2 linked regions of the Homo sapiens genome follow. The protein of the gene in region 1 interacts with the protein of each later gene in a pairwise test. Each region holds a gene or a part of one and is shown in the gene's direction. Other genes may lie near its edges.

Region 1 (7,780 bases):
AATAATTTTTAAAGCCACTTTCCTCATCATTATCCTCAATATAATAGCTAATATTTACATTTCTCTAACTTGACTATTGCAATGGCTTCCAAATAGGTCTCCTTGCCTCCAATTTCCTCCTATAAAATCCACCCTTGCCAGTGCTGACTCATTCTGATGCTTAAAAGTATGTTTTATGTATTTAAAAAGTGTTACATTAACATTTAACAAATATTTACTGAGTGTCCTCTGTGCCAGGTGTTTTTCTAGGTACTGGGATACAGCAGTAAACCAAAGGAACAAAAAATCCTGCCCTCAGGGAGCTTATATTCTGCAAAGTTCATTCTTGTAATTATATATCTTTGCACTACATATTTTGCTACAAATCTTGGCAGACAGGAATAATGATGATGATGGTGGTGGTGGTTTCCATTTTGTTAAACTTCTATTATGTGTCATCCATTATCCTAAGCCATTATAACAACCCATGTGGAAGCTATTATTGTACTGATTTTTGCACAGGAGAAAACTGAGACTCAGAGAGTGAAGTAAGTCCAAAGGCAGAGACTTAAAAAAAATGAGGCTAGGCATGGTGGCTCACACTATAATCTCATCACTTTGGAAGGCTGAGGTGGATCACCTGAGACCAGGAAGTTCAAGACCATCCTGGGCAACATAGCAAAACCCTGCTTCTCCAAAATTAAATACAAATTAGCTGGGCATGGTGGCACACACCTGTAATTCCAGATACTTGGGAGGCTGAGGAAGATGGATTGCTTGTGCCCAGGAGCTCGAGGCTGCGGTGAGCCATGATCATGCCACTGCACTCCAGCTTGGGTGACAGAGCAAGACCTTGTCTCTAGAAAAACTGTTGAGCTGGGCACAGTGGCTCACGCCTGTAATCCAAGCACTTTGGGAAGCCAAGGTGGGTGGATCACCTGAGAGGTCAGGAGTGTGAGACCAACCTGGCCAACATGGTGAAATCCTATCTTTACTAAAAACACAAAATTAGCTGGTGTGGTGGCACACACCTGTAATCTCAGCTATTCAGGAGGCTAAGGCAGGAGAATACCTTGAACCCTGGAGGCAGAGGTTGCAGTGAGCCGAGATCGTGCCATTGCACTCCAGCCTGGGTGACAAGAGTAAGACTCTGTCTCAAAAAAATACAACACGAAACCCCGTCTCTACTAAAAATACAAAAATAGGCCAGGCGCAATGGCTCACGCCTGTAATCCCAGTACTTTGGGAGGCCGAGGCGGGTGGATCACAAGGTCAGGAGATCGAGACCATCCTGGCTAACACGGTGAAACCCCCGTCTCTCCTAAAAACACAAAAAAATTAGCCAGGCGTGGTGGCGGGTGCCTGTAGTCCCAGCTACTCAGGAGGCTGAGGCAGGAGAATGGCGTGAACCCAGAAGGCAGAGCTTGCAGTGAGCTGAGATCACGCCACTGCACTCCAGCCTGGGTGACACAGCGAGACTCTGTCTCAAAAACAAAAACAAAAAAATAAATAAAAATACAAAAATTAGCTGGGCGTGGTGGTGGGCACCTGTAGTACCAGCTACTTGGGAGGCTGAGGCAAGAGAATCGCTTGAACCTGGGAGGTGGAGGTTGCAGTGAGCTGAGATTGTGCCACTGCACTCCAGCATGGGCAACAAGAGCGAGACTCTGTCTCAAAAAACAAAACAAAACATCGAAGTCCAGATTTGAATCCAGTACTTTCTTTCTTCAAGGCGTTGGCCACTTCACTACACATCCTCTCTTAGATGTTCAAAGGGTTTATGAATAAATAATGGAACTCTACGAAACCTCTTTGTAATACAAATAACCACTGCAATAATCTGTTTATAAAATGAAAATGTATACTTACTTCATCTAAAGCATTATTTACCCTCCAGGGGACATTTGGCAATGTCTGGAGGCATTGTTGATAGTCACAATGTCAGCAGCAGGGTTGCCACTGGCATCTAGTGCATAGAGGCCAGGGTGCCTTTGTCTGCTCTGGCTGGTATGACAAAATACCTTAGACTGGGTAGCTGACAAACAACGGAAATTCATTTTTACAGTTCTGGAGGCTGAAAGTCCAAGATCAAGGTGCCAGCAAATTAGGTATTTACTGAGGGCTTGCCCTCTACTTCATAGCTAATGCCTCTAGCTGCATCCTCATCAAGCTCCTTCCGGCCTCATTTATAAGGGCACTAATCTAACTCAGGAGGGCTCTGTCCTCATGACCCAATCTCCTGCTAAAGGCTCTTAATACTATTCCACTGCCGATTAAGTGTCAACATATGAATTTTGGGGGGACAGAAACATTCAGACCATACCACAGGAGAACAGACCTCTACAACGAAGAGAACTATCTGACACAAAACAGCGCTGAGATTGAGAAACCCTGACACATCATGAGGCAGTTGGATACACTTTAAAAACATTTAGACCCTTATTTTTCCTTTCTATTTTTAACATCGCTCACTGAATGTACTCTTTATGCATTGAAATAAACCTTGTTTATATTTTAAAGGCACCCGCCTCCATCCCCATCTTTCAATTTAAATTTAGTAATGGATTTTCCGGGAAAAGTGCATATCAGTTGAATACTTCTAAAAAACATATATTTCTAAGTTTTAAGTACCATTTTACCCAATTGTTTACAGAAACATTAACTCTAATGCTTTTGTATAATTTTAAAATATTATTCATATTCTGTTCTTCATTTATAAAAATGATGCCAAAGAGCAATGCCAGGGGACATTCTTCTTTAAACCGATTTACTGTAGAAATGATGGATGTGCACTGAGTCATCCACTCAAGCAAGTCTTCATCCTGGTAGCCATTTGGAAAGCGGTTGACTAGAGACCGACATGTAGTCTGTGACTGGGGAACAGTTGCTTTTTGTGGGAGACTAATTGATCTGTGTTTGATTCAATTCTGTGATATTGATCTTGACGGCATCATGTTTTCCTACTAAGTCCCAAGAACATTCCTGGTCTTCATAATCCCACTTCATGGTTTGAAAGTCAAAAATAGAAATTCATATGACAAAATGGAAGTCATATTCATTTGATCATTTTTCTTTTCCTTTAAAAACAGTCCTTAAAAGTTCTTTGGGGTAGGGTGGAGGCAGCACTTGAAGAGGTCAGCAGCCATGGCTTGGTATAAAGAGCTCCCCTGTTCCTCAGAGGCCTAGAATTTGTTTATGAAGGGCTCTGTTTCTTGACAGACATGACAAGACACAGTTTTTGAAGTCCTCCGCATCAAAGAATGTACACTTAGTTCAGCATGAACTTCTGCTTCAAGACCAGAGCGAGGTAGCTGCTTTACTCCAACTTTTGTAATGCTCCAAGAGATTAAGTGCCCTCATCTTCAGTGGACATCAATGTTTTGATTAGACAACTAACTTTCCTAATAAATTTCTGGGCTTCTTCTGAATAATCTTTCAAAAATTTTAGTGAGATTTCTGTACATACACTCGGGAGACAAAATCATGATATCCCTAGAGTTTTTATTACATCCTCATTATTCTTACCTATTTCTTCAGCAGTCCTAGCAATGAGAACCAGACAAGATCATCTTGGCCAAACGACCAATACTATTGGTTTACTGCCCCGTTTCAGTTGGAGACAAGAACGGTGGATCCTGGTCACCTCCACGGAGGGAACACAGAGAACATTCACTGTTAAATATGACACCTATAATTAGGAAAACCTATGGTTTTACCATAGCAGTTTTACAGACGAGGTTATTTTTGGGGTGTTGAAAAAACAGCAATTAAAAGCTTCCAACACAGTTTATTCATGCCCCAATAAATTATTTCCCCACCAAGTATACGCTCTTAAAGAAACGCCTGATGTCTGGCCTCAGTGTCCTCACGGGCTAACGTGGCAATTATTAAGGGTGTAGAATTTGAGCAAACTTTCTAAACCTCTCCTGCATGTCTTATTCTAATTCCACAGCCCCTTAAATCGCCTCCCTGGGATCCAGGCGGCTTGGAAAAAATGAAGTCTGAACAGCCAGAGACCTAAGGAATCAAGTTTCATTTACTAAGAAAAACTAGAAGGACTGCGATTAGATTAGGCAAGGTGGGAAAGGGATACCGGCAAGTAAAGCGCCGGAAACTTACAACTTGGGTTATTTTCTAACTGGCGTCTTGCAAAGGGACACCATGTAGGTATCCCGCTCGTCAACTTGTAAATGAACTTCAGGTTCTCTTTGGTGGCAGGAGAATTCTGAATGTGAGAACCTGGCGGCCGTTCAACGACCCCGCCCTCGGGGTCCCCAGGGGGCGTCCTCCGGCAAGCCTGATCGTCTGGGGCCAAGGCGCAGGGCGAGCAGGGAGGGAGGAGGAGAACCAGGGCCGGTGGCCCCGAAAGCACACACAAAGCGGCCTGACTCCTTTGGTGGGAACTTCCCCGGCCGCCAGCGGAGCGGGAGCGGGAGGGGGCGGCGGAGAGGGGGGGCGGCGGTTCCCCTCGCCGAGGCGGAGAACAGCGCGCGCTAGGCTCTGGGCGCGCGGCGAGCGCAGCGGCCGCCGCCTCCTCCCTTCCCCGCCTCCGCCGGCGCTGCCTCCTCCCTCCGCCCAGCTCGGCCTCCCTTGCTCCCTCCCCTCCTAGCTGGCTTCGGCGGGGACGGCGGCGGCGGCGGCGGGCGGGGAGGGCGTGCGCCGGCCGAGAGGTGTCGGCGGCGAGGCAAAGGAAGTTTCAAGTGGAAGGTCGTCCGTCGGCCGGCGCGTCCTCCTGCTCTCCTCCGCAGCATCATGGCGGAGCCGAGCGGCTCGCCCGTGCACGTCCAGCTTCCCCAGCAGGCGGCCCCGGTGACAGCGGCGGCGGCGGCGGCCCCGGCGGCCGCGACAGCAGCGCCGGCCCCGGCAGCTCCCGCGGCCCCGGCCCCGGCCCCGGCCCCGGCGGCACAGGCTGTCGGCTGGCCCATCTGCAGGGACGCGTACGAGCTGCAGGAGGTTATCGGTCAGTGCGGCGGGCGCGGCGGGGCCGGCACAGGCCGGGCGCCGAGGCCGGGCGGGAGGGGGCGCGGGATGCTGGGCTAGCCTGCATGCACGCCCTGGAGGCAGAGAGGCCGGCTTCGGGGCCTACTGGCTTCAACAGTTTTTTTTTTTTTTTTTTTTTTTTTTTTAATTTTTAATGTATTTGTTCGTTCTATGAGCGTTGGTGCTGCAGGAGGCGGCGCGGCGGATGTGACTCGCACTGCAGACGAGCCGCATGCTGCAAACTTTTATCTCAGGGATCGCCGGGGCGGTGGAGCGGAGGACCAGGCGGCGCCGCCGCATCTTCCTCCCCCCGCGTGCCGGGACCGCAGCCCGTGGCCGGTGGCCACGCGGACAGGCAGCCGCGGGTGGGGTGTGGTTGCGGGGGCCCCGCCCTGGGTTTCCAGGGCCCCGGGGGCCGCGTCCTGGGGGACTCTGCGGGCGCAGCCGCTCCTCTGCCTCCCGTCGTGACCCTCTCGTCGTGGGTAACGGGGCCACGTAGAAGCCGCGGAGGCCCCAGTGCTTTTCTGAGGCCGGGGAGGATGCTGGCCTCTCTTCCTGACAGCCGCCACTCCACGCCCGCCTTGCAGCCCGGCTCTCCGCGCCACTCGGCGCGCCCGGGTACCCGCCTCCCTCCGTGCCAGGGTGCGCCGCCTGCCGCCCAGTCCGGCTCCCCGGGGAAAGCGGGTGCCCTGGCCTCCTGCCCTGCACCGGGCCGATGCTTCCCTCTGTTTCAGGCCGAGCTGCAAGAGTGAAATCCGAGGCTGCCGGTGATCTGCTCTCTGCCTTTCGTTGCCTTCTGGCCGGCTCACAAATATCACCTTATCTTACATTTTTAAATACCTGGCAGAGTCGCAGGGCTCGGCGTTACTTTTCCTTGGGCCAAGCACTTGAAGGGCCAGGAGATTTGTTTTGTCCCTTGACTTAGAACCTTCCCTATTGGATCATCCAGTTTGAGAGTCTTGTCACTTAGGGAAGCCTCCAGGTTAAGTGGGCCCTCAGCGTCTAACCTTACTGACGCAGGGATGGGATGTTGCCTTTCCAGAATCTTGGTATATAAGTACAGCGATGAAAAAGGAGTTCAGAATATTTATCTTAAGTATTTTTTCTAACTTTCACTTCAAAAAATTCTTCACCTCCTTTTAAAAAAATTAAAACAGATATAAAAATTTCACTAGGTGTTTAAATGAGCCTTTATCACCTGCTATTGGGGAATAAAACAGCATAGACGGAAATATATATATAAATATATACATAAAAATATGTGAGAAAATGTTGGGCAGGTCCGTAACCTAGGATATATACAAGCTTCAGATAACCTATAATAGGCATCTGTAGACAAAATTCTTTGAAAACCCAGATCTTTCATAATTTTTGACCAAAGACTCTAAAGGGATGAGTCTTCATGTCACTGCCTGAAATAGCTTCAGGGGCTTCTCAAAGCCTGGAATATTCCATGGAAACCTCTTTAACCTGGCATATAGGCCCTGTACCCTCAACCTGCCTGCCTCCTCCCATTGTCTACTCTTCAGTGATTGCTTCCTGAATACACCGCTGTCTTCCGCACATCTGGTCTTCCATTCTTTGCTGCCTTGCAGAGGCTCTTCCCTCCTGTGAGTGCCCATCTTTGTGTACTAAATCTCACTCCGCTTCCAAGGTGAGTGTGAATATTCCTTGAAAAGCCTTCTGCTTCTTTCAAGGCAAAATGCCGTGGTTTCTTCTGCCCCTCTTTTTACAGACCTCATAGCATGTAACCTCATAGTTGTTATTTGCGCAACAAGATCTGAAGGCCTGCTGTGTCCCAAGCATTGCCCCACTTGCTAGCAATATAGAAATTAACAAAAGTGATCCCTGCCCTAAGTTGTTAGGAGACATAGGGAAAGGATCCTATAGGATGTGATGAGTAAGTACTGGGAGAGCCCGAAGGAGGGAGTGACTGCCAGGAAAGAGAAGGAAGCAGAGTATTTCTTAGTAGAGGTCGTAGTTGAGCTGGGTTTTAAGTCTGAGTTTGTAAGGTGCTTAATTATTTCCACTGTTGCCTTCACTAACCAGCTGTGAACTCTGACAGGAAGAGGTGGGCCATAAAAGTTGAATAATGGTATCTGCCACATAATTCTCCATAGAGTCCATAGGATTGGGAGAAGTTATAATCAATTTATATACCTACTTGGTCAATTATTAGGGTTAAAATACAAACGTTGCCTTTTGAAAACAGTATTTTTTTGTGAACTAATAAAATCTTAGTTTAAGTTGAGTGGGATTAATGGCAGGACTTCTTTCTGTTTGCAGTCCCAGCAGTGTTAATTATGGTTGGTCAGTTTAGTGGAAAAAAAGAAATTTACCTGAGGAATTTGAGAACAAAAACACCTGCTTATTCTACCCTGACTTTTGCGCATTTGCATTGTGGGAAGGGCTTTTCTACATTTAAAGTTTATCTCATATTTTCCCAACTAAAAGAGAAAGAGTTGGCCTGTGTGGAGGCCCTGTTATTGAAAAATCAAATTGCTGGAATAGGTTTTTCGCAAGGGCTTAATGTTTATAAGGAATTACAAACCTGTTTCCATTTAGGGTTTAATGCTAGTTGAGAGATTAAGACTGAACTTGTGGTTAAGCACTTTTGCTTAAACATTACACGCAGAAGTTAGCAGTTCAAACACTGAACCAGTTTCAACATGAATGCCAGTTGACAGCCTTTGCTTCTACCCGCCATACGGCAGGTGTCATATGATATGACTCCAGCAGTGTGAACCGTGACCAGCAGCAGGAGGCTCAGATGTGCCTGAACAGAAAACCAAAGGAGGCACCGTGTTTTAACTTTCCAGCA
Region 2 (7,420 bases), about 140 Mb from region 1:
AGGTGTGGTGGCTCACGCCTGTAATCCCAACACTTTGGGAGGCCAAGGCAGGTGGATCACCTGAGGTCAGGAGTTCGAGACCATCCTGGCCAACATAGTGAAATGCCGTCTCTACTAAAAATGCAAAAATTAGCGGGGCTTGGTGGCGGGCACCTGTAATCCCAGCTATTCGGGAGGCTGAAGCAGGAGAATCGCTTGAACCCGTGAGGCGGAGTTTGCAGTGAGCCAAGATGGCGCCACTGCACTCCAGCCTGGGCAACCGAGCAAAACTTCATCTCAAAAAATAAAATAAAATAAAATAAAACAAAATAAAAAAGCAAGGCTAGGGAAGGGAAATGGGGAAAAGGGAGAAGCGAGCAGTGTCTGAAGCTCAGGAGCTGCCCCCTCCTCCTCTGCCCACCCCTCTCCCCCCATGAGCCATGGGCACTGACTGGGCGAGGAGTGCAGCTGTTGGCATGAGACCTCCTTCTCCCCAGCCTGGGGAAGCAGGGACCAGCAGATAATCCCGCCCTTCCCTGAGCTGTTGCTGTTCCCTGTTGAAGTTCCCTGAAGCTCAGCCAGCTCATATTTTATAAAAATGAATTAAAACCTCCAAAAAAATCAAGGCTAATATGAGGTCTGCTCCCAGCCCCCTGCCAATGTCCTCCTTGTCATCCCTGTCTTGTGACTATAACCACAATTAAAGCCCATAGCCTTTGCAGTGTGACCTGGGTCTGCAGTTATCTGCAAGGCTTCCCCCTAAGGAGCTGGGGTACAAGCTGACCTGTGTTTCCTGTGGGACCTGGGTCTCACAGCCCTCCCAGTGCTCTCAGAGCCAGAGCCACTCCCTCTTCCCCCAGGCATCTGTTCCCATCCCCTGCCACAGGCTCCAGCATTCTGGAGTGACGTCAGGATCTTGGCACATCCAGTCCTAGGGTTTCCCTCTGTCTCTGGCCAGCCCTGAGCCCCGTAGCCGTGAGTTCTGCCCAGGCCCTGTGAGCTCACCAGAGCCACAGACTCACAGCCCAGAGGTGGCTTCTTCCTTCAGGAACTGAAGAACCCCCATGAACACCAACATCTCCAGGTTCTGAGAACAGAACCTGGGAAATTGATGACTTCCTCATGATGACCGATACTCAGGATGGCCCTAGCGAGAGCTCCCAGATCATGAGGTCCCTCACTCCCCTGATCAACAGGGAGGAGGCATTTGGGGAGGCTGGGGAGGCGGGGCTGTGGCCCAGCATCACCCACACTCCTGATTCACAGGAAGAAGGCCTGAACGACATACAGGAGATGATCAAAACGGAGAAGTCCTACCCTGAGCGTCGCCTGCGGGGCGTCCTGGAGGAGCTGAGCTGTGGCTGCTGGTGAGAAGGGAGGGGCGGCAGGTGGGGGGAGGATGAGGCGGAACTGGACAAAGGGGACCCTGCCAGGGCTGGGCAGATGAGGAAGAATCTACAGAGCCCCTGCTGGTCAGGCTCGCTAAACCCCGGCTCGCCCTACCCCCAGCCGCTTCCTCTCCCTCGCTGACAAGGACCAGGGCCACTCATCCCGCACCAGGCTTGACCGGGAGCGCCTCAAGTCCTGCATGAGGGAGCTGGTGAGGACGCAACTGGACGGCGGGGGCTGGAGGGAGGGCCTGGTTGTGAGAAGGTGTCACAACCCCCTTTGTCATGGCCCGAGCTGTCCCCCAGTTGCTGGGTTCACTGACACCCCCTCCTTCGCAGGAAAACATGGGGCAGCAGGCCAGGATGCTGCGGGCCCAGGTGAAGCGGCACACGGTGCGGGACAAGCTGAGGCTGTGCCAGAACTTCCTGCAGAAGCTGCGCTTCCTGGCGGACGAGGTGCGGCCCAAGGGGTCGGGGCTTTGCCTCATCCAGGGCTGGCTCTCTGGGGCCCCTCAGGATCAGGGGGCTCAATCAGGAGGCTAGACCCCCTTACCCACTGCCCCTGGCCACCCCCCAACCCCCAGCCCCAGCACAGCATTCCCGACATCTTCATCTGGATGATGAGCAACAACAAGCGTGTCGCCTATGCCCGTGTGCCCTCCAAGGACCTGCTCTTCTCCATCGTGGAGGAGGAGACTGGCAAGGACTGCGCCAAGGTCAAGACGCTCTTCCTTAAGGTGCTGGAGGGGGCAGGATGGATGGGGGCCTGGGTCCTTTCAGGGGAGCAGCAGCCCCCACCTGGGGCTGGAAGCCTGAGTGACAGGGTGGGGCCTTCAAGCAGCAGGTGCTCAGAGAAGAGCCAAGAATGGGAAGGACGTGGGGGAAGGGGTGGGGAAGGAGGTGGGGGAAGGGGTGGGGGAAGGGGTGGGGAAGGAGGTGGGGGAAGGGGTGGGGGAAGGGGTGGGGGAAGGGGTGGGGAAGGAGGTGGGGGAAGGGGTGGGGGAAGGGGTGGGGAAGGAGGTGGGGGAAGGGGTGAGGGAAGGGGTGGGGGAAGGGGTGGGGAAGGAGGTGGGGGAAGGGGTGGGGAAGGAGGTGGGGGAAGGGGTGGGGAAGGAGGTGGGGGAAGGGGTGGGGAAGGGGGCATGACGGCCCCCTGCCCATCCTCCTGCCTCCACCGGACCCCAGCCCAGCGGGATGGCTGTGAAGGGGCAGGGCAGCTCTGACCAGGGCCTCTGCCGGCCCCTGCCCCTTCCCCACCTCTTGGGCCCTGGCAGCCGTCAGGCTCCTGGTGACCCCATGCCCACCCCCAGCTGCCAGGGAAGCGGGGCTTCGGCTCGGCAGGCTGGACAGTGCAGGCCAAGGTGGAGCTGTACCTGTGGCTGGGCCTCAGCAAACAGCGCAAGGAGTTCCTGTGCGGCCTGCCCTGTGGCTTCCAGGAGGTCAAGGCAGCCCAGGGCCTGGGCCTGCATGCCTTCCCACCCGTCAGCCTGGTCTACACCAGTGAGTGAGGACCCCTCACTCGAAGCCTCACCTGGGAGGGGGCCGGAGGGGCTGCCCATCCTGGAACCTCAGGCTGCCCTTCCCCACAGAGAAGCAGGCGTTCCAGCTCCGAGCGCACATGTACCAGGCCCGCAGCCTCTTTGCCGCCGACAGCAGCGGACTCTCAGACCCCTTTGCCCGCGTCTTCTTCATCAATCAGAGTCAGTGCACAGAGGTGAGGGCCTGGGAGGAGGGAGTGGCTCTGGCTTTGAGAGCACCAGAAGCCTGTGAGCCTGTGGGGACTGGAGCCTGTGGGGCCTGTGAGCCTGTGGGGCCTGGAGCCACAGGTCAGCCAGTGCCCCGGTTTCTCAGGGGAAGCCCTGCAGATAACTGCAGCAGACGCGGGTCACACTGGAAAGGCTACGGGCTTTAGCTGTGGTTATATTCACAAGACAGGGACGACAAGGAGGACATTGGCAGGGGGCTTGGGCCAAACCTCATATTAGCCTTGATTTTAAGATTTCTGGAAGAATCAAGACACCTGTCACTCCTGCCCCCAGGTTCCGTGGAAGCTGAGTGAGTAGGGGTGGCTTCTGTTTGTGCATCTGCCCCCCCCTCTGTCACTTGTCCCCTGTCTCCCCATCCCATGCTGCAGGTGCTGAATGAGACCCTGTGTCCCACCTGGGACCAGATGCTGGTGTTCGACAACCTGGAGCTCTATGGTGAAGCTCATGAGCTGAGGGACGATCCGCCCATCATTGTCATTGAAATCTATGACCAGGATTCCATGGTATGGGTGGGCTCTGGTGCCAGGGACCCCAGCAGCACCACACCTGGCCCTTGTTCCCTGCACTCCACCTGCGCTGAGGCTGTGCCCTCACCTCCGCCACCCACCTGCAGAGCTCCTTGGCCAGGTGCTGGCTGGGAAGCTGGGAGTGGGGGCTGACATCTAGCTCCTCCTGCCTGCTTGCGGCAGCCTGACCCCTTCCCAGGCCAGCACATCCTCACCTCCTGTCTCCTACAGACTGAGCCCTGGAGGTGTGCCAGCAAGTCCTGCTGTCACTAGCCTCCCCACCCCAGGGCTCCCCGACCCCTGCCCTCACCTACCACAACCAGTAACAGCCTTGCCATCCTCCGTGGAGGTTCTGGAGCAGGGAGTAAGGGATTGGGGTGACCCCCGAGAGTTAGCGAGCCACCTTCTCACATACCACCTCAGCTGCTGAGGTGCCCAGATAGCCCTGGACTAGAGGTAGGAGGACCTCATGTCTAGTCCTGAGCCGGGCATCTGCCATTTACTGACTGCTTGGCCTTGAACAAGTCTTTGGTGGGCCCTGAGACTTGGTTTCCTCATCTGTAAAATGGGGTGATCACACCTGTCCCTTACAACAACTCATGGCGCTGTGGTAAGGACCAAACGAGATCACAGGTGTGGACAGCAAGCACCAAGAGGCTTCTGGGTTGTCTGTTGCGTCAGGGCAAAGCTGACTTCATGGGCCGGACCTTCGCCAAACCCCTGGTGAAGATGGCAGACGAGGCGTACTGCCCACCCCGCTTCCCACCTCAGCTCGAGTACTACCAGATCTACCGTGGCAACGCCACAGCTGGAGACCTGCTGGCGGCCTTCGAGCTGCTGCAGGTGGGACTGCAGGGAAGAGGGGCTGAGGCCTGGGGACTGGAGGCTGGGAGTTGGGGCCTAGGGCTGGGGGCTGGACCCTGAAGGCTGGGGCCTGGGGTCTGGGGCCTGGGGGTGGGGCCTGGGGGCTGGAGGCTGGGGCCTGGGGCTGGGGGCTGGGGCTGAGGGCTGGGGCCTGGGGCCTGGGGGGTTAGGGCCTGGGCGTTAGGTCCTGGGGGTTGGGGCCTGGAGCTGGGGCCTGGGGGCTGGGGCCTAGGGGCCTCTCTCCTACCCATCCTGACCAAAGCTGGGGGCGTGGTCCTTAGGGGGTTTCCCTGTCTCCCCAGATCATGGCAAACAACTCATGGGGAAAGAGACCCTGTCCCTGGGCTCCCCAGTGTGTGACCTGTGACCCCCATTCCCCAGATTGGACCAGCAGGGAAGGCTGACCTGCCCCCCATCAATGGCCCGGTGGACGTGGACCGAGGTCCCATCATGCCCGTGCCCATGGGCATCCGGCCCGTGCTCAGCAAGTACCGAGTGGAGGTGCGAGGGCTCTGTGTGGCCCTTCCCTTTTGGATGAGGAGTCTGAGGACCCAGGAGGGGAAGTGGCTTGTCATCCCCCTCCCACCACCATCACCAGGAGCCAGCAGCAGACCCAGGCTCCTGCCCCAGCCCAGGGCCTGCCCCCATCTGCACCAAGTCGCACTCCCATGTCCCAGGACCATGCCCAGCCCTCCTGTCTGCACCCCTGACCCTGCACCCCTTCTCCGGGCAGCCCCACCCTCATCCCTGGAGAACGCCTGCCCCTCCTCTGCTCTCCTGGCCCTGCTCCCACCCTTTGAAATCTGGGGTGAACTACTGCCCATCCCACTGCCCGGTTCCCTATTGGATGGTCCAGCACCCCCATGGCTGGCTCCCTTGACTAAGGGGCTCTCTTCTCTGCACCCACCCTCCAACCTCTCCCAGGTGCTGTTCTGGGGCCTACGGGACCTAAAGCGGGTGAACCTGGCCCAGGTGGACCGGCCACGGGTGGACATCGAGTGTGCAGGGAAGGGGGTGCAGTCGTCCCTGATCCACAATTATAAGAAGAACCCCAACTTCAACACCCTCGTCAAGTGGTTTGAAGTGGTGAGTGCAGGCCCTGGCGGAGGACATCCTGTGGCCAGTGTGGCTCCACTCAGCCAGCCGGCTTCCTCTGCCCCTTCTTGGAGGCTCAGGCTCCTGTCGCCAACACCCCAGGACCTCCCAGAGAACGAGCTGCTGCACCCGCCCTTGAACATCCGTGTGGTGGACTGCCGGGCCTTCGGTCGCTACACACTGGTGGGCTCCCATGCCGTCAGCTCCCTGCGACGCTTCATCTACCGGCCCCCAGACCGCTCGGCCCCCAGCTGGAACACCACGGGTATGGCCACATCCACCCTGCCACCAAGCCTGGCTCCACGCCCCCCAGGGAAGGGCTCCAGGTCTCCGCCCAGTCCAAGCCGCGACCAGAGTTTGCTCTTTGGGGCCGAGGGGGTGGGCATAGAAGAAGGTCACCCTGGTGGCCAAGGAAGGCTGCCCAAGGTGACGCCAGCTCTACAGCCAGAGAGGGCAGAACTGGAGACAGCCTGGGGGGGCCTGAGGGCAGAAAGCCCCTTGCGCTGGTTGATGGAGAAGACCCAGGCCTCCCCGCCACCTCCCTCCCACCGGCCTCCGCAGCTTCCCCTTATCTCGGGCTCTCTTCTTCCCTCCCCATGCCCATATTTTCTCCCTTGACTGCCTGTCCCCCTCTCCCTCAGAAAGTTCCAGAATCAGCTTTAGTTCTCCGCACCTTCCTGCCCCGCCAATCTCACTGTTCCTCTTGCTCCTTCCTCTGCCTGTCTGTCCATCTATCCATCTGTCCAGTCAGGCTTCTCCGGCGCTGCCGTGTGCTGTGCAATGGGGGCTCCTCCTCTCACTCCACAGGGGAGGTTGTGGTGACTATGGAGCCAGAGGTACCCATCAAGAAACTGGAGACCATGGTGAAGCTGGACGCGGTAAGGCGGGTGGGGTCAGCCCCCTGCTGGCTGGGAACATGCAACTTCGTGTGACACATCCTGTGAACCAGACTATCTGCCCCGAGAGAAAAGGACACTAAGAGCCTCCTTTGGCATGTGACTGTCGGGGGCTGAGCTTGATTGTGTGTCCAAACAGCTCCCTCCTAATACTATCCTGGAATGCACACGCGTGCGTGTGGTATGTAAATGTGCATGTGTGTGCGCATGTGTGTGGTGTGCATATGTGCATGTGTGTGTGCATGCATGTGATGTATGTGCATTTGTGCGTGCATGCGTATGTGTGGTGTGCATATGTGCATCGTGCATGTATGCATGTGGTGTATGTGCATGTGTGTGTGCATGTATGTGGGGTATGTGCATATGCACGTGCGTGCGTGTGGTGTGCACATGTGCATGCATGTGTGGTGTATGTTCATATGCACGTGCATGCATGCATGTGGTATGAGCATGTGCATGTATGTGTGCATGCGTATGGTGTGCATATGTGCATGTGGTGTGTGCATATGTGTGTGCATGTGGTGTGTAAATGCATATGTGCATGTGTGCAGTGTGCATGCATGCGGGTGGTAGGTAAATGTGCATGAGTGTGGTATATATGCATATATGTGTGCATGTGCGCTTGTGTGCATATGTGCATGTGTGCATGTGGTATGTAAATGTGCATGTGTGCATGTGTGCATGTGGTGTATGTGCATATATGTGTGCATGCATGCTTGCGGTGTGCGTATGTGCACATGCGTGCATACATGTGGGTGTGTGCATGTGCACTGGCATGTGGTATGTGTGTATGAGAGACAGAGTGAGCCATCACAGTTTATTATAATCACCTGCTATAATTTTTACTCCAACAAATGACACCATAGGTAATGATTCCTTATGAGATCATCAGTGTCCTTTCCAAAGAGTCCCTGGTTTTCCATCCC

What was found.
Region 2: the proteins of STK39 (region 1) and OTOF interact in a two-hybrid assay, tested with the Homo sapiens proteins (one study listed by BioGRID).

Annotation. Positions count from the first base shown.
Region 1 is NC_000002.12:168,244,387-168,252,166, reverse strand, and holds the start of STK39 (STE20/SPS1-related proline-alanine-rich protein kinase), read left to right. Parts: upstream 1-4,571; 5' UTR 4,572-4,731; coding exon 4,732-4,939; intron 4,940-5,105; exon of another isoform or gene 5,106-6,613; intron 6,614-7,780. UniProt on the Homo sapiens protein: Effector serine/threonine-protein kinase component of the WNK-SPAK/OSR1 kinase cascade, which is involved in various processes, such as ion transport, response to hypertonic stress and blood pressure.
Region 2 is NC_000002.12:26,471,575-26,478,994, reverse strand, and holds part of OTOF (otoferlin), read left to right. Parts: intron 1-870; exon of another isoform or gene 871-1,101; coding exon of another isoform or gene 1,102-1,245; coding exon 1,246-1,346; intron 1,347-1,488; coding exon 1,489-1,579; intron 1,580-1,706; coding exon 1,707-1,823; intron 1,824-1,951; coding exon 1,952-2,104; intron 2,105-2,677; coding exon 2,678-2,867; intron 2,868-2,956; coding exon 2,957-3,081; intron 3,082-3,501; coding exon 3,502-3,636; intron 3,637-4,320; coding exon 4,321-4,482; intron 4,483-4,884; coding exon 4,885-5,004; intron 5,005-5,427; coding exon 5,428-5,589; intron 5,590-5,700; coding exon 5,701-5,863; intron 5,864-6,345; coding exon 6,346-6,476; intron 6,477-7,420. UniProt on the Homo sapiens protein: Key calcium ion sensor involved in the Ca(2+)-triggered synaptic vesicle-plasma membrane fusion and in the control of neurotransmitter release at these output synapses.